Homo sapiens: one gene and its partner. The protein of the gene in region 1 interacts with the protein of each later gene in a pairwise test. Each region holds a gene or a part of one and is shown on either strand. Other genes may lie near its edges.

Region 1 (7,023 bases):
GGACACAAGGATCAAAGCAAACAAACACAGTCAAACAGATCTATAAGTAGCAGCCTGAGAGTTATAGGTGGAAAGACTTGAGCCTTGAGCCTCCCTCAGCTGCTACCTACCTCCTCCTCTGCAGCTGCCACGGGCTTCCCCAAGCTAGAGGCCATGACATTTGTTCCCTTTTGCTACACCCTAGCAACAGCTGTTATCTGAAAAGTGGGAATACTAAAGCATATCCTTCTTTTTTTTTTTTTTTTTTTTTTTAAGACGAGTCTCGCTCTGTCGCCCAGGCTGGAGTGCAGTGGCGCGATCTCGGCTAACTGCAACCTCCACCTCCCGGGTTCACGCCATTCTCCTGCCTCAGTCTCCTGAGTAGCTGGGACTACAGGCGTCTGCCACCACACCCGGCTAATGTTTTTGTATTTTTAGTAGAGACGGGGTTTCACCGTGTTAGCCAGGATGGTCTTGATCTCCTGACCTCGTGATCCGCCCGCCTCGGCCTCCCAAAGTGCTGGGATTACAGGGGTGAGCCACCGCGCCCGGCCCTAAAGCATATCTTGTCTCACACTGCAGGGTGTGTTTTCTCTCCTCATCTCCCCACCCAACCTCACAAATATTTGTAAAGCTACCAAAAAGTGATTCTCTGCAGCCAGCCCTGATGAAAATAGCTCAAGTTGATCCTGAAGGTACCACCTTGCAAGCATCCTATCTGTCCCACTAAATCCTCTCCCCAACTCCATCTTCACGATGTCCCCCGTGTATCTAATGATACATAGAAACAATCACTGCCATAAACTTCTAAGTTTAGTTAAGGCTGATAATACTAGAACAAGGATCTCAGATTTGGTACCCACCTCTCCTTGGTAGATAATGGAACACGGAAAAGTATAATTACCGTGTAGAAAGTAGGACCGATTGTTCTTTCCTTTGTCATTTCCTAATCACTAAACTCATGGAAACCAACCATTTAAGAGCCACCAATGAAGGGGAAATGAACTCCTGACTCAAATGAAAGCTAGAAAGAACAGGACAAGAAGCTGGTGCTGATGGCCTCTAATATCAGCACTTTGGGAGGCTGAGGTGGGAGGATTGCTGGAGTCCAGGAGTTTGAGATCAGCCTGCGCAACATGGCAAGACCCCATCTCTACAAAAAATACAAAAATTAGCCAGGTGTGGTGGTACATGCCTGAGTCTCAGATACTTGAGTCTCAGATACTTGGGAGGTTGAGGTGGAAGGATCACAAGAGCCCAGGACCCAGAGGTTGAAGTGAGCCAGGATCATGCCACTGCACCTGGGCAACAAGAGTGAGACACTGTCTAAAAAAATAAAAATAAAAATAAATAATAAAAAAAGATATAAAACAATGTATTTTTTTCTAAAATTTAAAAAATTAAAAAAGAAATAACACAACAGGACAGAAGAATGACCTTCCTTCACCTTGCATTCTCTTCTCTTGAGGTTTAACTTATTTTCAGTTTTATTGATTCCAAAGCTGATGGAAGCCATAACTTATATCAGCAATGGCCTTTTAGAAAAGTAATTACAAGGCCGAGCGCAGTGGCTCATCCCTGTAATCCCAGCATTTTGGGAGGCCAAGGCGGGTAGAAAACCTGAGGTCAGGAGTTCGAGACAAGCCTGGCCAACGTGGAGAAACCTCATCTCTACTAAAAATTAAAAAATTAGCCGGGCGTGGTGGCGCTTGCCTGTAATCCCAGCTACTCAGGACGCTGAGGCGGGACAATCACTCGAACCTGGGAGGCAGAGGTTGCAGTGAGCCGCGATTGCACCACTGCACACCACCTGGGTGACAGAGTGAGACCCTATCTCAAAAATAAATAAATAAATAAATAAATAAAAATAGAATAAACATTCTACATGAATTAGGCTCTTGACCATTGACTCCAAATACAGGGACTCTTCATTTCCTAAAGCCCTTCTTTTTCAAAAATCTGTATAGGCAGTAATTTACTGACTCCAGGATATCTCTCTGCTGTTTAGGAGAAGAAAATTTCAATCCTAGCTTCTAAGGGACACCCCCTAAGATATTCTTATACCAACCGTAAAGTTCCTTAGGTGCCTACTTGAATAAAATGAATTATTTCTCCTTGTCCTGTTGTGTATGCTCTAAATTCCTTATCTCATATTCGATTTATTAGAGCTTGATCTTTGGTTCAAAGGCCCATTTTACCTTTTTTTTTTTTATTATTTTTTTTGAGACAGAGTCTCACTGTGTCTCCCAGGCTGGAGTTCAGTGGTGCCATCTCAGCTCACTGCAACCTCTGCCTTCCTGGTTCAAGCGATTCTCCTGCCTCAGCCTCCAGAGTAGCTGGGACTGCAAGCACGCACCACCACCCCCAGCTAATTTTTTTGTAATTTTAGCAGAGACGGGATTTCACTATGTTGGCCAGGCTGGTCTGGAACTTCTGACCTCAAGTGATCTGCCCACCTCGGCCTCCCAGAGTGCCAGGATTACAGGCCTGACCCACCACACCTGGCCTGTTTTTACCTTTTTTCTGAAAACTGCATTAACATTTGCAAAGCAAATTTAGGAAAGCAATTCAATATTTATTAAAGACGTTTTTATTAAAAAGACAATAGTAAGCCTGTAAGAGCCTGAAAGGCAGCCTGTTATAGAAAAAAGGCAAAGGTGACAAACAATTTGAAAGAACTGCATTTCCTCCAACTTAGCTAACTAAATTCATAGCCTAGTAAGTTGCTTTTGGGAAGTCAGCCTTAGTGATTGGATAAGATTGTTGTAATCAGCACACTTCATCTTGGTAGAGGAGCAAAAGTGAAATTAATTATGAATTAATGAAATTAAATGAATTAAAGTGAAATTAATGATTGATGCATTTTCTCTCTATTTAAGCATTCCCTTTATTATACATTCTGAATTCTCTTCCTTACCCTACTCCCATTCTCACAGATGGCAAAATAGAACTGCAATTTATCTTCCCATTAAAATGGTTACAAATTCTGAATCAGTGGAGTCCAAATTCACTTTTTAAAACCACATGTCAGAAAGATTGAGTTTAATATTTAGTAGAGAAAGTGACAATCCTACCTTGTCAAAATATAAATACTCACAGGAATAAATCAGATTTTCCCCAACAGAATGGAAAAGCTACTTGTCTACTTTTTTATTTACCAAAGTTGTCACACTGCAATGTGATATTCTCATATACATGATTCTGTTTTAAAGTTGTTTTAGTGTTTCATTTTTTTTAACCCTCTAAGTCACTAGTTGGGAACAGTATTGTAGCTTATCATAGTGCTTAAGAGCAGAAACACTCAACTCTACCGTAACTTTCTGGCTGAATAATCTATGGCCTGTTGGTTTAAATGATCTTTTCCTCAATTTTTTAATCTACAAAATAAAAGTAATAAAGGTATCTGCTACATAGAGTTGCTATAAAGATTAAAGGCATTACCATACATAAAGTGCTTAGAAGAGTCCTTACCAGGTAATAGGTGCCATGTAAGTGTTATTGTTATTATTATAATTGCTACCATTGCTAGAAAGAGAATAGTGATATTGTTGGGCTTCTTTATTTTATTTTATTTTATTTTATTTTATTTTATTTTATTTTATTTTGAGACGGAGTCCCGCTCTGTCACCCAGGCTGGAGTGCAGTGGCGCAATCTCGGCTCACTGCAACCTCTGCCATCTGGGTTCAAGCAATTTTTCTGCCTCAGCCTCCCAAGTAGCTGGGACTATAGGTGCCTGCCACCGTGCCCAGCTAATTTTTGTATTTTTAGTAGAGACGAGGTTTCACCATCTTGGCCAGGCTGGTCTTGAATGCCTGACCTCGTGATCCACTCGCCTCAGCCTACCAAAGTCCTGGGATTACAGGCATGAGCCACCATGCCCGGCTAATTTTGTATTTTTAGTAGAGACAGGGTTTCTCCATGTTGGTCAGGCTGGTCTTGAACTCCCAACCTCAGGTGATCCACCCACCTCGGCCTCCCAAAGTGCTGGTTACAGGCATGAGTCCCCGTGCCCGGCCCTTGATTATTTATTTATTTAAGACAGAATCTTGCTCTGTCACCCAGGCTGGAGTGTCATGGTGCAATCTCAGCTCACTGCAACCTCTGCCTCCTGGGTTCAAGCTATTCTTGTGCCTCGCCTCCTGAGTAGATGGGACTATAGGCATGTACCACCACGCACAGATAATTTTTGTATTTTTATTAGAGACAGGGTTTCTCCATGTTGTACAGGCTGGTCTGGAACTCCTGATCTCAGGTGATCCACCCACCTTAGCCTCCCAAAGTGCTGGGATTAATAGGCGTGAGCCACTGCACTCAGCCCTGTTTTTGATTATTATGAATAGTACTGCTATGAACATCTGTGTACAAGTTTTTATGTAGACATGTTTTCTCATTTCTCCTGGGTATATACCTAAAAGCAGAATTTCTAGGTCATATGATAACTCTATGTTTAATATTTGAGGAGCTGCCAAATATTTTTCCAAAGGGGCTGTACCATTTTACATTCCCACCAAGTAGTGTGTAGGGGTTCTAATTTCTCCACAATTTCTCCACATCCTCACAAACACTTGTGACTGTCTTTTTTGTTATACCCATCCTGGAGGCTGTGAAGTAGTATCCAAATGCATTTTTTTTTTTGAGACCGAGTTTTGCTCTTGTTGCCCAGGCTGGAGTGCATTGGCGCGATCTCGGCTCACTACAACCTCTGCCTCCCAGGTTCAAGCAATTCTCCTGCCTTAGACTCTCGAGTAGCTGACATTACAGGCATGTGCCACCACGCCTGGCTAATTTTGTATTTTTAGTAGAGATGGGGTTTCTCCATGTTGGTAAGGCTGGTCTTGAACTCCCGATCTCAGGTGATCCGCCCGCCTCAGCCTCCCAAAGTGCTGGGATTACAGGTGTTAAGCCACCGCGCCTGGCCCCAAATGCATCTTTAAGATGCAAAAATTGAAATACATTGGGAGAAGGAAGTAAAATCTTTTATGACAAGGGAAAAACATGAAGAAAATTAAACAAAGGGTCCTGCAGTTAAGCTGAAAAAGGAAGCAAGAGATATTTTTAGGTCTGTTAGTTAATTTCTTGTCCTTATACAACCAACCGCCCTTTAAAAAGTGTGAGGATTGGCCGGGCATGGTGGCTCACGCCTATAATCACAGCACTTTGGGAGGCCGAGGCGGGCGGATCACGAGGTCAAGAGATCGAGACCATTCTGGCCAACATGGTGAAACGCTGTCTCTACTAAAAGCACACACACAAAAAAAATTAACTGGGTGTGGTGGCACGCACCTGTAATCCCACCTACTCGGGAGGCTGAGGCAGGAGAATCGCTTGAACCTGGGAGGCGAAGGTTGCAGTAAGCCGAGATAGTGCCACCGCACTCCAGCCTGATGACAAAGTGAAGATGCTGTCTTAAAAAAAAAAAAAAAGTGTCAGGATTGGCCAGGTGCAGCTCATGCCTGTAATCTCAGCACTTTGGGAGGCTGAGGTGAGCGGATCACCTGAGGTCGGGAGTTGGAGACCAGCCTGACCAACATGGAGAAACCTCGTCTCTTCTAAAAATAAATAACTAAATGAATAAATAAAATACAAAATTAGCCACAATCTCCGCCTCCTGGGTTGAAGTGATTCTTGTGCTTCAAGAAAAATAAATTTAAAAAATAGAAAATAGGGCGTGCCTGTAATCCCAGCTACTTGGGACGTTGAGGCAGGAGAATCTCTTGAACCCGGAGGCAGAGGTTGCGGTGAGCCGAGATCGCGCCATTGCACTCCAGCCTGGGCAACAAGAGTGAAACTCCATCTCAAAAAACAAAACACAAACAAAAAAAGAAGCGTCAGGATTGTGGAGCCAGCCCCCAATTTCACATCTGGAGGTTACAATAGTCATAACAACACTCTTCTTGCTTTATCGATTTATTTTACAAAGTTTCTTCCCATGCTGTACCCTATTTGATCCACTACCACAAATCTTATGTGGGAAGATATTATTCCCATTCTGTAGGGAAGGATGCTTAGGACTAGAGAGGTTAAGTGACTTGCTCAAGAGGGCATAGCTACAATTAAAGAAAGAAAAAGAAATTGATAGAACTGGGCCTAGAGGCTAAATTTTTTATTTCAAATCCCAGTCCTTGGTTTCCTCTTATCACCTCTACCTCATCTCTGATGACCCAGAAAGTAATGCAAAGTGAGAGAAAGCAGAGGGGAACTGAGAGTGTGTGAAGCACTTAGAGGCAGGAGGCCTGGACATTGCAAAGCACTTACAATCCTGCAGTGAGAGGGGAGCTACAGACAGAAGAACTCTTTGTGAAAGTGACAAGAATGACTGAACTTCCAACCCTCCAATAACTAGGAAACCAGGCATACGACCGCTTTAATTCCTAAATTCTGACTATTATACTGCTCTGTACTAACAGAAGTATATTGAATACTTACGATATTCATTTAACTACTTACTGAGTAGTTACTATGTGCTAGTTACAGTGCCAAAACAGTTGAGATAAAAAACAGCAATGATTAAAATTTTCCAAAGTAGAATTAAGTGGCTAACATTTCCTAAGCCTTTTACATGTAGCATCTCATTTAATCCTCACAGAGCTCCTGAAGAAGTGTCATCAGAATAACATTTCGTAGAAGAGGAAACTGAGACACAGAGAGGCTAAACATATTGTCCTAAAGTTACAGAATAAATGGTGGAGGCAGAATAAGAACCCAGGCAGCCTAGTTCTATATCCTGCGCTCTTCACCACCACCCAATCCTTCCTGCCCAATCTTGCTTGGCTGGAAGTCACATGCAGTGATGCAGAGAGACCAATAATACTAATTAATTCCAGGAACTATTTGTTGAATGCTCATTAATACATGAAGCCCAGGGGCAAATTCTCGCAACTCCATGAAATACATTCATCTTCATTGTCTTTTTCAAATGTGGAAACAGAGACTCAGAGAAGTGAATTTACTTGTCCAAGGTCACAGAACTCTACCTTAGCTAATGTTGACCTGGTGCTTACTACATATCTATCAGAAACTACCCTAAGCGCAACTCATCTAAT
Region 2 (7,028 bases), on another chromosome or scaffold:
TGACACACTTCCCACCCACCTCTGCCACTCCAAATATTCCTCCCCCCCTTCTCAGCCTTATGTTCTCCATAGAATTTATTCCCCGCTTACACACAATAGCCTTTGTCTGTCTGTTCCCTCACTAGAAGGTAAGCTCCATGTGGGCAGGGAATCTTGCAAGTCTTGTTCACTGTTGGATCCCCAGCACCTAGAACAGCACTTGAAACTTAGCAGGTGCTCAAAAGAATATGCTCCACAAACGAATGAATGAATGAAAGCTCGGGTACAACAGGGTGCTGGGAACAACACCCTGGACACCCTCAAATTCAAAAGTCTCTCACAAACCCATTCCAATAAGGGTTAATTAGGTTAACCACTAGTTCTGAAATCAGAGACACCTTGGGAACATTCTATAACTCTTTGTAACCTGGCAGTAGTTATGCAAATCAGGTCATTATTTTCTCAGTACACGGGGAATGGATCACTTGGTGACAATGAAAGCATCAGTAGGAGAGTAGAGAGAAGGGCGCCAGCCATACCTCCTAGTTTTGCCTATAGTTGCAGGCAGGAAATTCCTGGGTGGCCCCTGACTCAAGATAACTGGTGTTTATTAAGAACCTGTCCTGTGTCAACCCCAGACCTGTAAACACTGTGTTCTGGCAAGAAAGACTGTAACTCTTAAACATGTACATGTGCTATTTTGCATGTAACTATTTTCTATAAATGTTGGCATCTTTCTCCAGAACCCTAAGCCTCATTCATGTCAAAAAACATGTGATCTTGCCAAATTAAGGTACTTCTATTTCTTCTGACCTTACATGCTCTCTTTGAGGTAAATACGGAGCTACCTCAATGTCTCAACTCTCTGTGAGGACTCTTTCTCCTTCGTTCAGGGGGCCCCTTTGCCCCTCCTGGTTGCCCAGGGAAACCTGCATATCTCAAGGGTGGAGGCAGGAGGGCGGAGAGGGGACTGGCCAGTGCCTGTCCTGCTGGCCTCCACTGGGGTGTTGCTCATCCTGGTAGTGCCTGGGCACCCGGGTGTCTTCTGTCTACTGAGGTGTGGCTGCTCTAGTCTCTTCTTTCCGGGCCCTGACAAGGCTTTTTGTGAAGATCTTGCATGGTGGAGGTGCAGAAATCCTGTCCCAACCTCAGTCCTCTTGTGGTTCAGCACTTTGGCATCAGGATTGCCCATATCCTACAGAGGGGCAACTGGGGGTCCGGGCATGGCACATCAGTCTAGACCCTTCTCCTGCCCCGTGCTCTGCTCCTTCCCCGGCATGTCCCCTCACAGCAGGCTCCTCTGAGAGGCGTGTAGTCAGTCGCCTGGGACTCCACCTTCAATGTCCTCAGATTCCCCTAGCTGGGTACCCCCATCTTATTCATAATTTATGTGGTGCTTGAAAGCTTTAGCTATGTGGCTATTTCAAACATCCTCCCCATATAATATCCTGTAGTCCGTAAATATTTACTATAAAAAGTAGTTTTCTTTAGAAAAGGTATACACCCCTCCCTGGATATCCACAGGGGATTGGTTCCAGAGCCTCTGCGGATAGCAAAATCTGCAGATGCCCAAGTCCCTAATACAAAATGGGGTAGTATTTGCATAGCTTCTATGTGTATCCTGCTGTATACTTTAAATCATCTCTCGATTACTTGTAATACCTTATACAATGTAAATGCTATGTAAATGGCTGTTATACTGTTCAAAATTTGCATTTAAAAATTGTGGTACTGTTATTTTTAAAAATTTTCCCCCCTGAATATTTTCCATCTGTGGTTGGTTGAATCCAAGGATGCGGAACTCCCAGATACCGAGGGCTGACTGCATATCGTTTTAGTGTGTGTCCAAAAAACTCAACAATTCTTACTTAGCATTCAGAGAAGCAACGGAGCGTAGCGTGGTGGTGAAGACAGGCAGTCCGGAGCCGCCCTGCTGAATGCCCGCTCCATTCCTCGCTGCCTGTGTGACCTTAGGGAGTTAACCTCTCTGTGCCCGTTTCCTTATCTGCAAAATGGGGATCGTGGTAGCACCCACCTCGTAAAAGTGTTGTGAGAATTAAACAGTTGATCCATTACGTGCTTAGAACAGCACTGGCACAAAGCGCGAGTGCCGTGGTGGCTGCTGTCCGTGTCATCACGGCCGTGGGAAGCACGCCAGGTGAGCAGGTGGCACAGGCCAGATGCTGCCGCCTGTGTATAGTTAAAGGAGCCTTTTACGGTCTGGCGATTTTACCTGTGTCACTGCAGCCACTTTCCTTCACCCCCTCCGAAGAATTTAGGATCTTGGACGCTGAAAGGAGAACGGAGTCAACTTCATCCTCTTCCCGGTGCTGCTTTTCTGTAACAGAACCGTCCGGGGCTGTTCTGTCGCGGGTCGTGGCGTGGCGGGGCTGAAGGTGGGGGCGGGGCAGAGGGATGGGGCGGGGCAGGGCTAACGGCTGGGGCGGGGCGGAGGGAATTAGGAGGGGGCGGGGCTGAAGGCTGGGGCGGGGGGGCGGGGAGGGCGGGGAGGGCGGGGCGGAGGGAATTAGGAGGGGGCGGGTTTGAAGGCTGGGGCGGGGCGCAGGGATGGGATGGGGCGGAGAGACTGGGCGGGACCTGTGGGGGCAGAGGAATGGGGCGGGGTCAAGGCTGAAGGCTGGGGCGGGGCGGAGGGATGGGGCGGAGGGACGGCATCAGGCCGGGCCTGGGGCGGGGCGCGGCGCTTTCCGCAAGCGGCCACCCGAGGGCGCGCTGGGCGGGCGGCGGCGGCAGACCACGTAGCCAGCCTGTAAGCCACAGCGGACGCAGGGGGCCGCAGCGGGTGCTCAGCCCTAGGGCCGAGCGGGAGATGTGCGGCGAGTGCAGAAGGGCGGACCCGGGATGTCCCGGGTTTTCGAGCGGGGAGCCGCCTGCTGAATGCCCTTCTGCTGCCCTCCGTTCCCGCGGCTCCCCTAGGAGCCCCGCCCCGTCCAACTCTTACCCGGGCTCATCGCCGCGGCTCATCTCTCTCGCAACCGCCGCCGCACGCACCCGCTCCGCCGCCCCGCGCAGGGCATCCTGTCGCCAGGTAACCGGGTGGCCGGGGCGCCGGCCCCACCCCCACCCTCGGCGGCGCGCGCTCGGCTGGGGTCCCTGGTGGGGTCCCGGTGGGTCCCTCCTCACTCCGGACGCTTCCCCGAGAGCTTCCCTGGGAACCTGGCCTGGGACAGCCCACCTGGGCGCCTCCCCGCACACGCGCGCGGCTGTCCGGGACGGGCTTGCTCACACTCGGACTCGCTGCGGTACCCGCCGGACCAAAGCGGTGCGGAGAAAGGGACCGCCCGGGGACGGACACACGCCTGAGAGCTTTCCCTTTGCCTTTCCACATCTCCACTTCATCGCTGTTGTTTTTTTTTTTTAATTCTTAGTCCTCTCATTTCAGCGCATCCCTCAGAGGAGTTTCAGCATTTGGGGATTTGAACGGCCCATGACCAATATTGTGAAAGGACTTTTGTTTGCTGCAATGAAAAGAAGACTCCTATTTTTCAATAATGAATTAACCTAAACATGTATTAAAATATGCTCATGAAAGCTGTGGGAAGCGACGGTGGGCTTCCTTTGTCTAAGCATGTTAATTTTTACGCACCTGGTGTATCACGTGCAGGATTGATGTTGCGTTCACGGGAAACCTGACCTCCTTTAACCAAGGACTGGGTGCGTGCCCCCAGCTAATCCTCCTGCCCATCAGAAAATGGTGCTCTTTAAAGTTTTAAACGAGTATATATTATTTATTTTGTAGTAAACCATCACACATAGAAAATTAAAATTCAAAATCACAATCACCAGGATATCATAATTTGCTATATAATAACATATAATATATAATAAGTAATACATGATGGCTTGCTTTCATTGAAATGAAACTTCTTATGATAGTTTCAGTGCTTACTTCCTCTAATTTGTTTCTTATAGAAATGGGCTCTAGTGCACGCGCCTGTAATCTCAGCTACTCAGGAGGCTGAGGCAGGAGAATCGCTTGAACCCAGGAGGCGGAGGTTGCAGTGAGCCGAGATGGCGCCACTGTGCTCCAGCCTGGGCAACAGAGCCAGACTCCGTCTCAAAAAAACAAAAAAAAACAAACAAAAAAAAAAAAAAGAAAAGAAATGGGCTCTAGGTCCGGCATGATGGCTCACACCTGTAATCCCAGCACTTTGGGAGGCCGAGGCGGGTGGATCACCTGAGGTCAGGAGTCCGAGACCAGCCTGACCAACATGGTGAAACCTTGTCTCTACTAAAAATACCAAAATTAGCCAGGTATGGTGGAGTACATTCGTAATCCCAGCTACTCGGGAGGCTGAGGCAGGAGAATCACTTGAACCCAGGAGGCAGAGGCTGCAGTGAGTCGACATAGTGCAACTGCACTCCAGCCTGGGCCACAGAGCGACACTCTGTCTCAAAAAAAAAAAAAAAAAAAAGAAAGAAAGAAAGAAAAAAATGGGCTCTAGAAGATTTGACTTTCTTGTGGCATTGTAGACAATTTTAATAAATTATAATTTTGAGAATTTATGGTCTGCATTGCTGATTGATATTGATGATTCAGGAGATAGAAATTATTTAGGCAGATAGGGCAAAAGAGTCTTCAGCAGAACTTCTAACAAAAAACAGCTCAAGAAATCATTTTTTTTTCTAACAAAGAGCAGCCTGAAAGCCTGCAAACCTTGCAAAGATAGATCAGGAAGCTGGAAGCGTGCACACCAGGGCGCAGGGGGTTGGGGGGCAGCGTGCGGGTGGATGCCAGCAGCTGCGCTGATAGAAAAGGGCTACCTGGGGGCCAGGCATGTCCACCATGGAATCTCCATCTCCCCTTTTTTGTTAGCACGTGTACAGTAAGAAAGAGATGGGCGATATGGAAAAGCTCAGTCAGAGAACCCACCTGCGTAGTAAAAGATTGGGGTGGGGGCTGCCAGAGATTCATGCCCTATGCAGATGGCACACCTGGTCCTAACTGGTTTTTCACGCCCTATGTAGATCAGACTGCCTCCCCATTAGCTCATCTATAAAATTCTATAAAAAATATTTCACAGCGAATTGGCAACCCGGGGACCCCTTTCTGTAGCGGAGAGCTTATTCCCTTTCTTGTCGCCTATTACATTTCGGCTCTTAACCTCACTCTTTGTGTGTCTGCATCCTTGATCTCCCTGTGAGACAGCAAACCTTGGTGTCAGCCCACACAATGAGGCTGCTTCATTGATAAAGTTAATTTTTTTCCTGAGAGCTACACAAGTTTTCAGCAATATGTTTGTGAAATTACTACTGTAAATAAATTGCATTCCTTCAAAGGGTGAATGACAAAAAGCCACTACATTTTAGCAAGTCTGTTTTTATACTACTGAAGTTTCCACAATTAATTACTATATTGTATTTTATGTAATGCTAATTATTAATATCTAATCATTTGATAATTTATGTAATAATGTGTAATAACTCTAATTTGTCTATGTAATATTTGTGGACTATGATGACAAATTAATATCGGTTATTACATAGAAATTACTTGTGGATTTTTGTGGGAGCACTCAGTCATACCATTTAGTGTAGAATATAAAAAGCAGGTGATAGATGCTACAACATCAAACTCAGATTTAGCCAGTGCACTAATCTCAATAGAGAGTTACTTCCATTTTAAGCTACTTCCTAATCCATTCATCAGTCAGAAAAGCAGCTCTTTAGTTAGAAGGACACTTTATTTTAGATGTCCTATAAGGCCTTTTGATTATCACACTCATTTCTCTTTTGTAAAGCACATCACATATATATTCTCAGTTAAAACAAAAATTTTGTCAGAAAATTATTGCAATTAATATGTAAAAAGGCTGTCTTTGGAGCCAACAGTTATAATATTTTAAAAACTGTTTTCAATAATAAAGATGCCTATGATTTGAATATCACCCTCTCAGATGAACCCCCTCGTGAAGGGCCTCACATGAACATTGCGTGCGCCAACCCTGGTATTCGAGGTGGGAGAATCTGGAAGTGGTAATTAGAGCATTGACATGTCTCTAAAAAAATGGGGGTGGGAGGTGGTCACAGCCCTTTAGGGACATTCACTGCAGTGTGAAATGTATGTTGAGGGAGAAATCTTATTTGATCACCCATGGCCACTTAAAACCATTTTCACCTGCGCTTGAAACTACCTGCATTTTGAACTCCGTGGCTGACCGAATGATGGGCCTCTCTGAAAAGGAGTTTCCTTATCTGTACAACTGTGAGCCAGTAGTGAGGATGAGTGAAATCCCAGGTGAAGGGCCTACTCCAGGAGAAAGCAGAGTGGTCACATACGGGGCTGACAGTGAATGGCAGGTCTAGAGCCCCGTCTAGGGTGGGATTCCATAAACACTTTTGAAATTTTTTTTTCCTGTGGTTCTTCTTTGAAAAAACTTGACACTTCAGTGGAAAAAGATTCAATTATTGTAGCTCAAATATTAGAAAAAATGTATATTTTAAAGAGATAGTAGAATGTGTTGTCTAGTTTATATTGTGTGTGAACTTTGATGAACTTGCCAAGCTTCTAAAAATAAAAAAATTGTTTGGGCATCTCAGTGAGTGCGTGTTTAGATGGCCTATAAAATGAAAATTTCTCGGCCGGGCACGGTAGCTCACGCCTGTGATCCCAGCACTTTGGGAGGCTGAGGCAGGTGGATCACCTGAGGTGCGGAGTTTGAGACCAGCCTGTCCAACATGGAGAAACCCCATCTCTACTACAAATACAAAAAATTAGCTGGGCATGCTGGTGGGTGCCTCTAATCCCAGCTACTCACTCGGGAGGCTGAGGCAGGAGAATTGCTTGAATCCGGGAGGTGGAGGTTGCTGTGAGCCAAGATCGTGCCACTGCACTTGAGCCTGGGCGACAGAGCAAAACTCCGTCTCAAAAAAAAAAAAAAAAAAAAAAAAGGCTGGGCGCAGTGGCTCACACCTATAATCCCAGCACTATGGTTTGGGAGGCCGAGGCAGGCGGATCAAGAGGTCAGGAGATCAAGACCATCCTGGCTGGCTAACACGGTGAAACCCCGTCTCTACTAAAAATACAA

The links. Proteins that work in one complex are often made in the same cells at the same time.
Region 2: the proteins of DEPTOR (region 1) and CCDC110 interact in binary tests that used the Homo sapiens proteins (3 or more experiments, as listed by UniProt).

The regions. Positions count from the first base shown.
Region 1 is NC_000008.11:119,876,703-119,883,725, reverse strand, and holds part of DEPTOR (DEP domain-containing mTOR-interacting protein), read right to left. Parts: intron 1-7,023. UniProt on the Homo sapiens protein: Negative regulator of the mTORC1 and mTORC2 complexes: inhibits the protein kinase activity of MTOR, thereby inactivating both complexes. DEPTOR inhibits mTORC1 and mTORC2 to induce autophagy.
Region 2 is NC_000004.12:185,468,733-185,475,760, forward strand, and holds the start of CCDC110 (coiled-coil domain-containing protein 110), read right to left. Parts: upstream 3,002-7,028; 5' UTR 2,952-3,001; coding exon 2,942-2,951; exon of another isoform or gene 2,699-2,941; intron 2,384-2,698; exon of another isoform or gene 2,318-2,383; coding exon 2,213-2,317; intron 1-2,212.